Linked DNA regions of Homo sapiens: region 2 is linked to region 1. The links come from fine-mapping of genetic effects on gene expression. A gene starts in region 1. The other region holds a variant in brackets. All regions are shown on one strand. Distances are between the middles of the regions.

Region 1 (5,380 bases):
ATGGCCTTGGCATCCTTGTCAAAAATCAATGGACCATATATGTAAGAGTTTATATCTTGGCTCTCTATTCTATTCCATTGGTCTACATGTTTGTCCTTATGCTGTGTATTAGGCTGTTCTTGCACTGCTGTAAATACCTGAGACTGGGTAATTTATAAAGAAAAGCGATTTAATTGGCTCACAGTTCTGCAGGCTGTACAGGAAGCATGGTGTTGGCATCTACTCAGCTTCTGGGGAGGCCTCAGGGAGCTTTTACTCATGGTGGAAGGCAAAGTGAGAGCAGGCATCTCACATGGCGACAACCAGATAGGGAGAGAGAGAGAGAGAGAGTGGGATGGCGGAGTTGCCACACACTTTTAGATGACCAGAGCTCACTTATCACAAAGGGGATGGCCCAGGCCATTCATGAGGGATCCGCCCCCTATGACCAAAACACCTACCACTAGGACCCACCTCTAATATTGGGGATTATATTTCAACATGAGATTTGGGTGGGGACAAACATCCAAACTATATCATGCTGGTGTTTTTCATTTGTTTGTTTTTTGTTTTTTTTTTTAATAAAAGATTGTAGTGTTCTGCCATTATCCTGTCATTACATAATTCTAAAATTAAAAAAGAAACATATATCCTTATCATTGCCTGTTTCTGTCAAGCTCAATAAATGTCCTTAATGGTTCATAGTATTGTAAAATTACTGTGTCAAAAATGCTTAAGCATTTGTCAAAGGCCTCTTACTCCTCCTTTGCATTCACTGCTAGTAGGCATTGCCCTGGACTTTACTCTGATTGAGTAAAAGCCAAAGTCCTTTTATTGAAATGGCCAAGGTCCTGCATATTCTGGCCATTCACTGCACACCCACCTGACTGGCTGCATTTCCCGATTCTCATTCTTGCTTCCTTATTGTTCCTCCAACATACCAATACAGTACTCCTGCCCATAACCACCTTGTCTAAATAACAACCTTGACAGAGCAGGTGCATCACCATCATGGACAAGCACTGCCATTTTAAAGTTCCCCTTGATCAAAAACCACCTAAATCCAAACAGCATCAGCCTAATGGCTAAGGTCAGCATGACCATACACCACAAATGACATCTCCGACCAGAAACATTCCAACCCTAAGATAAACCCCTCCCTGACCAGAGACATGCGAGCCCCGAGATAACCTCCCCTCCGACAGAGACATTCCAACTTGGCAATAAACTTCTTCTCCAAACAGAAACATTCCACGCCTGTGATAAGCTCTCTCACTCTAAAATCCTTAAATACTCTTAGTCTGTAAGAGAGTGCTCCTGACCGAAATCGGCCAGAAGCCCCTCTTAGGTTTATTCTTCCAAATAACACTGTCTGACTGTTGAGCTGCTATTAGTGTTTCTTTCCTCTTTCTTTAACTCTTACAAACTCCTTGCCCCATCTCCCATAGCTCCTGGCTCAACCTCCTGAGTAGCTGGGACCACAGACATGTACCATCTTGCCTGGCTAATTTTCTATTTTTTGAAGAGTTAGGGGGCAGTTCTCACTTTGTTGCCCAGGCTGGTCTTGAACTCCTGGGCTTAAGAAATCCTACTGCCTCGGCCTCCCAAAGTGCTGGGGTTACAGGAATGAGCCACCACGCCTGACCCCTATTTCTTCATGGCATTTGTCAGTGGCTGACACCCTACGTATTTATCTAATTTTTGTTTGTTCTCCCAACACGACTGGAATGTGAGCTTTATAAGGGCAATGACTCAGCAATGAAGAATGAATAGGAAAAAATATAGCGAGTTCTTTATTCATTCATTCAAATTACTATTTATTGAGAACTTACTGTAGACTAGACACAGAAAACACTTTCGACATTAAACATATAGAACTTGTTAAATAGTTATGTTTTGTTCAGTGGTTGTACAAATCTAAAATTAACAATTAAAAGTGTGTGTGTGTTTTTTAAGGGGTGGGTGGGTAGGAAGTCTCACAGATGGCGAGTCCAGAGCAGAAGCCTTGAAGGAAAATCAAGGTGTCAAAGGCAGAGCACACTGCCCCTTAGCTATTGCTCAGTGCACCAGGGTGGAGAGCTGCTGCCAGCCTATTAGATCCTCTCTCCAGGGAATTCAGAATGTGGATTGATCCAAGCTAGTCATTCCCTACTGATCTTTCAAACAGAGGTGAGGCACGCCCGTATGGAGAGCAGTTTCTTTAGCTTGCACAAACCCTGTGTTCGTCACCAGTGTCCAGGACAGGCTGCAGGTGTGGCTGGGGACTGTGATCTTCTTGTAGGGCCTCCTTAGGGATTGTGCAACCACAAAGGCAGAAGCAGCTCTTGCAGAGTGTGATGACGTTCACAACCTATATTTGACTTGTACTATATTCTCATCACTACAGGAGAAGAGGCCCAATGGGAAATGTGTGCTGTTCTAAATATAGCACCTGCCTCCTATACCTGCTAGATTTAGGTTGAATCTTTCACTGCCTGTGAAGGACTTTAGCAGGCCTCAGTGACCGGAAAGATCTACCCACGCTTTCAAGCACAGGAAGGACGGTATTGGAAGGCCTTGGGGTCCAGCCCAGGGCTTAAAGTCAGTTCCATTGGAATGCCATTTTCAGAGAGTTTTCATCCCAGACTCTCCAAGGGTGGCAGGCTCTTGTATCAGCCCTGGGACATGTGTCCTCTAGCAGTCAGGTAGTTAGGCAGGCACCTGTCTATCAATTTGTTGTTTTTCTTCTCAGTTTTCCGGTAAGACTACCCCGAGCTCTTCAATGTTTTCTTTGCTTTTGTTTACATTGAGTGTATGACGCGGGATGGGCTTCGTAGGCTGGTTGTGGGTTATTACAGCTTCCCAGGAAGGGGAGAAACCCAATTCTTGCCAGCACGTGGTGGGCGCAGGCGCTCATAAATACTTAGGAATAAATGAATGTATAAGTGAGTGCATGAATGGGTGAGTGGACACGAAGCTTTCAAGGTGGGTGCAGGGAGGTGGGGGTGTGAAGAGCCATCGAGGCTACCCTGCGGCCCTGGCCCCCAGGCTATCCCGCGACGCGCGTCCACGCCGACCAGCGGAAGGTGCCCAGCCAGTGGGGGCGGGGCGAGCTAGCCGCGAGGACGCGCCCGCGGGGGGGCGGGGCTAAGAGGACGCGCCGGGAGCAGCGGAGCGACGAGGACAGGCCGCGGGGAGGGGCGGGGCCACGGGGGGTGCGCCGGGCGGAAGGGGCGGGAAGAGGGCGGGCCCGGCGCGCGGTAGCGCGGGCCCCTCAGTGCACAATGGCTAGAGCAGGCGGCGGAGCCCCAACCCCACCCAGTGCGGAGCGCGCCGCGAGCCCCGCCGCAAGCTGAGCGCCTCCGCCCGCCAGGCGCGCCGGCGCCGGGCCATGTACTCGGGGAACCGCAGCGGCGGCCACGGCTACTGGGACGGCGGCGGGGCCGCGGGCGCTGAGGGGCCGGCGCCGGCGGGGACACTGAGCCCCGCGCCCCTCTTCAGCCCCGGCACCTACGAGCGCCTGGCGCTGCTGCTGGGCTCCATTGGGCTGCTGGGCGTCGGCAACAACCTGCTGGTGCTCGTCCTCTACTACAAGTTCCAGCGGCTCCGCACTCCCACTCACCTCCTCCTGGTCAACATCAGCCTCAGCGACCTGCTGGTGTCCCTCTTCGGGGTCACCTTTACCTTCGTGTCCTGCCTGAGGAACGGCTGGGTGTGGGACACCGTGGGCTGCGTGTGGGACGGGTTTAGCGGCAGCCTCTTCGGTGAGTTGGACTGGGAGAAGGCAGCCTCCCCTCTGCAAACTTCCACTCCCCACCCCGCTGCCCGCTCCGTGCGTCCGCCCCCCAGCCCGCCCCGCACCGCTTCCCGCTCGGCCCCGCGCCCCCCGCCCTACACCGCCCCGCTCCCCGCTCGCCTCCTCAACGCTGCCCGACCCCAGCCGCATGGCGGGTGCCTTCCTCTTCCTCCGTCCCCTCCCGCCCCACGCTGTCCAGGACTCCATTCCTGTGGTCTCTCATCTGCCCCCCACGTTGACCCCAAACCCCGGCCCGCCTCCTTTCTTATTTGTTTTTACCTCCTAAGATCACTCAACAAGGCACGAAACCACGGCTTTTTACACTTTGAGGAAAGAGACGAGGGCCTGTAGAGTCAAGAGATTCAAGAAAAAAAGTGATTAACTCGTGAAAGTTGGAGGGAGTGATGAGATTAGATTCATGTACTACTATTTGTTTCCTAAAATGAGAGTAGAAAACCAAAATAACAATGTGTAAAAAAAAATTCTCATTAGTACTTGTAAACCTTTGAATGCTTTCTAGGGAATGAGACAGTTTCATTCAGGTCCTCAGAATGCAAATTGGCATGTGCCCTGTAAGCTGTTTTTACTATTTTCCGTCTTATAGATGGGTTCCAGCACACCAGAATCTTGGGTGAGATTACAAATGGCTCAGCCAATACCATCTCAGGTGAACAAATACTGTAATTAGCTCTGCAATCGGTAGATTTCATTAAAGTAGAACTTCATTGTTGAAGATGTATTTCGACAGTACTCTTATTATGGAAGATTTAAGTTTCACTGAGACATGATGTTTTGAAGGATGATCAACAACTCAGCAAATCATTGAAGGAAGCGTAGAAAGGAAATTATTTTTTTGTGTGCCTCAGGAATTTCATTTGTAGGGAGATTTGAAATAGAAATGTGTATTTCTCAAGGCTTAAAGTTCCTTTTTTAAATCCTGAAATCCATTGATACTTTATTGCTTTAATCTTGGTAGGTTTGGGAGAACAAAAATCTTTGTAGAATTATCAAAAATATTTTCTTATTCAGTAACCTCTATGCTATGACAAACCCAAATATTATATTTGTAATGATTCATTTTTTGGCGTTTTGAAGGAAATAAGAAAATAGATTTTATTTGATTGCTTCAGAGGTTATAATATTTTCCTCCCCGCCCCTCATAAGCTTTAATCTGATAATTTCATTTGAACAAACATTTGAAATTTAGGGAGGGGACTGCAAGTGTATGTAGGCTGTGGTATGGACGACTATGGGATTACACTCCTTATATTAATTGTAAAATACCTATCAGGCAGTTTCTTCGGCAATGCTAAGAAGGTTATTCAAGCCCAAGCCTAAAGTATCATCAGTAGTGTTCTCCAGGGTAGTCAACAGGTGTTTGTTCACAGACATCAAAGTTCTTTTTTCCTTGAAGTGCCTTTTCTGTGCTGGAAAATTCTGTTTTCGTGCCCGGGAGTTTGAACACAAGGGTGTACTGAGTTCTTTATAAGTGCTAGCTGTCATCCACCCTCTTCCTCACCTCTTTCCTCTGCTGATCCCACCCTCCTGTGTCTCCTGGTCACTTCTCCCTTCCTGTTTTTCTTCTTCACCATCCCTCCTAGGGTCCCAGCCCAGTGATTTTCTAAG
Region 2 (5,380 bases), 40 kb after region 1:
GTCAAACTGCAAGGAGGAGCTGGAAAAAAAAAAACAAAACACATCTGTCTACACTTAGATGTCCTCTCAGCCTTGTTCTACCAACCTTTCTATCCCTGTATGTGTGGTCTACTGTCTCCACACTGTGACTATTACACAGACTCATTTCTCATTTTAATTTCTCACCCTACTGTCTCCTCTCATTCTTATCAAGTAAGTCTGCTTCTGATTTATCGGACCAAACAAAGCCATTATCAAGGGTTCCTTTGACTCCTTACCTCTCTTTACACAAACCACTGATTCTTAGGACTCTCTCTTCAGTTACAGGGCGACAGGAGAGGTCTCCCAGGACCAACTCGATTCTGTATTCTGATTGCTCCCCCACCCCCTTCCATGCCCCAGAGACACTTCTTAATAATTTTCTCTTTCCCTTGTATCTTCACACTCTCCCTTACCACTGGCCCTTTCCCTTTAGCATATTACCAGGCTATTTTGTTTTTAATCACAATCTACTCTCAGCTCCCTCTAGCTATCACTTTATTTTTCTCCATTTTGTCACTGCTAACTCAAAGAACCATTGGTGACTCTTGGTGCCACAATGTCACTCACTAAGCATTCATTTACCTGATATTTATTGAGCATATCAAATATGCCAATTTCTTGCTGTTATAGACTGAATGTTTGTGTCCCTCTCAGATTCCTACGTGGAATCTCTAACCACCGATGTGACAGTATTTGGGGATGGGGCCTTGGGAGGTAATTAGGGTCAGAGGAGGTCATGAGGATGGGGCTCTGGTCTGATGGGATTAGGGGATTAGTGTCCTTGTAAGAAGAGACACCAGAAAGCTTGCTCTTTCTCTCTCTCTCTCTATCTCTATCTCTCTCTCTCTGTCTCTCTTTCTGTCTTCCCACGAGTGCATAAATAAGAGAACATGGAAGCACACAGTGAGATAACAGTCAAGAGAGGAGGCCTCAGAATGATACCTACCTTGCCAGCTACTCTACCTGGGACTTCCCAGCCTCCAGAACTGTGAGAAATACATTTCTGTTGTAGTTCAGGGAGTTGGTAGTTTAGTAAGTTTATCTAGCATTCATTCCTCAACTTAAGGCAAACTTGTGACTCCTTCCTCTACCGCACTGCCACTAATACAGCCCTCATTTCAGGTCATTGATGAGCTCCCAGATATGTGATCCCATGGACACATTTTTATTCCTTTCTAGCATCCTCAGCGTTTGAGACTATTGCCAACTTCTACTTTCTTGTGGTGGTCTCCTGCCATCGATTCTAGGGCGCCTTTCTCTGCTGTCTTTGTTGCTGACTCTCTGGCGCCATCTTCTTATCTCTTCCAAGGGCTTCTCTTCTTTGGGCCTCCCCAGCATCCTATGTTTAGCTCTTGTCCCATGCTACACACTGGCCTTGGGTGGTCTTTCATACTGCCAGGATTTCTCCTTCTGACACAAGCTTGATAACATCTCCATTTCCAGTTCAGGTCTTTCTTCCAGCCTCTAACAGATCCTCGTAGTCAATTGCCTCTTGAACACCTCCACTTGGATGGTCCACAGACTCATCAAATTTAACAAATATAAAGATTAATTTGTCATATTTTCCCTAAAATCTTCTGCTCGTCTATTTGCTTTCTCATTGAATAGTCATCATTCCTAGATACCAAGACCAGAAATTAGGGAGTAATCTTTGACTATGTGTCATCCATGTCTCCCCCAACACACAACTATTGATCAGTTCTTATCCATGCCACTTACATGTTTTTTTGTTTCGTTTTGTTTCTGTTTGTTTGTTTGTTTTGTTTTGTTTTGTTTTTTGAGACGAAGTTTTACTCTTATTGCCCAGGCTGGAGTGCAATGGCAGAATCTCGGCTCACTGCAACCTCCGCCTCACAGGTTCAAGCAATTCTCCTGCCTCAGCCTCCTGAGTAGCTGGGATTACAGGTGCCCACCACCATGCCTGGCTAATTTTTAAAATATTTTTAGTAGAGATGGGGTTTCACCATGTTGGCCAGGCTGGTTTCGAACTCCTGACCTCATGATCTGCCCGCCTTGGCCTCCCAAAGTGCTAGGATTACAGGTGTGAGCCACTGCTCCTAGCCCTATATTTTTTGGTATATCCATTTTTTCCTCTCCCACTGCCACAGACTCAGTTAAAAAAAAAAAACTTAGTTCTCCTTTTTAAAATTTTTGCTTTCCTCTATTCCATTCTTTACACACTGCCATCAGAGTAGTTGTTCTCAAGTATTACCTTCAGAAGTTCCACTGTCTTTGTGACTCAAAATAAAGCCCCTGGGTGTGGCCGGCAGGTCCTGTATGGCATCTCCTGTCTACCTGTCCAGCCTCATTTCTTGACACTCCTGTCTTCTTGCCACCTCATGATGCGGCCAATGGTAATATTTCTTGTTTTCAGAAACTGACTTTTTATTTTGCCTCTTGTCTTAGCACACTTTCTTTCTCTGGAACATTCTGTCTCTCCTCCTTACTTGACTAATTCCTCCTTCCCTCACAAGGCTAACAGCACGATTTTCTTGCTCTAACCCACCCTCAGAACCAGTTTCCCATCCTGTGTACTACCATATCCTCCCTGTTTACCTCCCTCATGGCTTCTACCCGCTCAGTGTGCATCATCCTCACCAAATAGTGAATTCCTCAAGAGCAGAGACTGGGTCTTATGTATTTTCTCACCTGTGACTGGAACAGTGTCTGCATGTAGTAGGTAATCAGTGACTATTTTTGGAATGAGTTACAAGCAGAGGGCATAGAAAGGGGAAGACAGGAGAAGGGGTGAAAGTGTGAAGAGATTTGACTTTAGCTGCTATCTAAACAGAGAGCTCACTGCAAGTAATTTGCCTCCGTTTCCTTATTCAGAGAGAGGTGACTCATAACAACGATGGAGACATAGCTACACACTTGAGAATGAAGATTCACAGTGAAATTCTTTGAAAATCTACAGATGTCTTGGATTAAGGAGCACTAGGCACCAGCCATTTATACAGCCAGAGAACAATCTGATAGAGAATTCTGAAGAATTTGTCTTAGCTGGTTCATTCTTTAGGACAAATTTGTGCCTGTGCCAATCATTTCAAAATTGCTTCATCCATAGCAATTTTGAAAACTATCCTCAAATGATTGAATAAAGAGGGTAAGACATGAAATCGAGTTTTTTA[T/AT]TTGGAAAATATTTAATGAGCAGAATGAAGGAATAGAAAGTAATGAAAGAAAGAGGCCTGAAAAAGATAAATAAAAAATAATCATGAAAACTTCACATATATAAACCCAAATAATCTAAAACATTAGTCAATATCTTCTCCTTATCCCAAAGAGGAACTGGGGATGTATAGACAAACATTTATTTAAATTAATTTCCCCAGCATGCATGTAATTCCAAGATGGATAAATGAGTGTTCTCCTTTGATAAATGGCGAGAGGGGATAAAGACTGACCTGCCCAGAAAATGGTACAGATAAAACGATTGGACCTAAATACTGGAGGTTTGGGAGGCAGATAACTGAGATGTGGTTATGTTGCTTGTTAATTGAAACTCTGAAGAGTCAATAATGATTCCAGATATCCTATAGTATCATAAATGTACATATACATACAAGTGTGTTAGTCTCATATCTAGTTCAAATATAAATAAGTATTTAACCTCAAAAACAACCCCACAAAGTCATACGTGTGGAAATGGAACTCAAGTTCTGTTAATTCTCATAGGTTTTTTTGCTTTACCTCCTTTCTTGTTTACTCTTAGAGGAGGTTGTTGACTTGCTCAATATCACACTGCGAGCAAAAGTGGTTAATCTGGGATATAAACTTAGATCTTCTAATTCCAAATCTAGACCTTTTATCAAAACCCCACAGCCTTCCTATAAACTAGGGAAGCTCCCCCAAAATGATGTTTTGAAAATAGAAAAATATTCTATCCCATTAAATAAAACAGTTTCTTTTAAAATAGAATTGCACACACAGAATAGTAGTATTCGGTTGGTGCAAAAGTAATTGCGGTTTTTGCCGTTAAAGGTAAACCTTTAAAGGTAACCTTTTTTAAAGGTAAATTATTTACCTTTCTGCACACCAAAAATATGTTCCTAAATAAAAATAGTTATCTCTGAACATTGTAATAAGTTATATGAATTTTACTACAAAAATACAAATACTTTATATATTGATTTTTTAAAGTAATTGGCATAGTGGTAAAGGAATATTATTTACCTTTAAATAAGGTGACCTTCAAAGGTTTACCTTTAATGGCAAAAACCACAATTACTTTTGCACCAAACTAATACCAGAAATTTAATACCCACTTTTCCCTGCACATAGTCTCTCTACCCTAAAAAAATCAATGATTTAAATTTTTCCTATTTCTCTCTATTCTTTGCTAATCTGAATACATGATTTTGATAAGAATATAATTTCTTAAATATAATTTTGGATATCAGTAATTTGAGAATTTTAATTAAAATATATTTCTAAATAATCTAAGCACATGTTCTAAATGATTTCTTTGGAAATTCTTTCTCTTAATTTTTATGATAATGCTAGAACCAAAAGGTACACTTAGAGTTCATTGAAATGCAGTAAATTTCCAGGCATAAAGTAATCAATACTAAGTATTAACTATATGCTAACTACTTAAAAAATCAATATATAGAGTATTTGTATTTTTGTAGTATAATTCATATAACTTATTACAATGTTTAGAGAGAACTATTTTGATTTAGGAACACATTTTTGGTGTGCAGAAATATTCTTTGCCTGTGTATTATTATGACACATATATAATAATAGGAGAAACAGCAAAAAGAAACATATTCAAGAAACTCAAAGAACTTTCAGGCTGTACATCATTACTCCTCCATCCCTTTAATGGGAACAGACTGCGAGTAGACAGGCTGGTTTTAGAGGAAGGAGTTGTTTTACCAAGTGCTGTTCTCTGCAAGTGATCCCCTAATGAAGCCAATCACAAACAAATTTCTCCTGAAATTCTACTTTACAGTCATTAGCAGTGAATTGAAAAGCTGGTTTTCAGTAAGAATTCACTTGGGAATTAAGTGCTCATCAAGGCCAGCTGCAGGCTTAATCATGCAGAACACCTGACATGACATGGGTGTGCAGTCTGATTTGAGAACTGGAGGACTAACACTCTATAGAGTTTCCAGGATCACAGGGAAATTCTTTGCATTTTATCGTGACTCTCTCAGGCTGTCTTTTAGAGACTTGAAGATCTAGGCAAAATAATGTTATTCTTATTAAGTAAATAAGAGAACGTCAAAAAAAACACTGAAGGATGTAGGAGGCTCTGTAGCTCAACCACCCTATGTTGTAAGTGGGGAGACTGAGGCCCGGCAAGGTTAAAGCTGGACTCAGCTATGAGTCTTGGATCAGAAGTCAGCCTGCC

Evidence for each region. PIP is the estimated chance that this variant, and not a neighbour inherited with it, causes the effect.
Region 2: its variant is the best candidate, but not a certain one, in a credible set for the expression of OPN3 in testis (GTEx, PIP 0.75).

Annotation. Positions count from the first base shown.
Region 1 is chr1:241,638,224-241,643,603 of GRCh38, reverse strand. OPN3 (opsin 3) reads left to right here and starts at 3,235. Exons shown (of 4, transcript NM_014322.3): 1 at 3,235-3,722. The coding sequence starts at 3,350. It overlaps CHML (CHM like Rab escort protein), which reads left to right and starts at 3,235. Exons shown (of 2, transcript NM_001381853.1): 1 at 3,235-3,722. RefSeq lists silencers at 2,906-3,485, 3,816-3,865 and enhancers at 2,968-3,537, 3,538-4,108.
Region 2 is chr1:241,598,127-241,603,506 of GRCh38, reverse strand. All of the region lies in intron 2 of OPN3 (opsin 3), which reads left to right. Among named protein-coding and RNA genes, the nearest start is that of CHML, 40 kb to the left of the region's middle. The variant T/AT (reference allele first, on the strand shown) is at 3,153.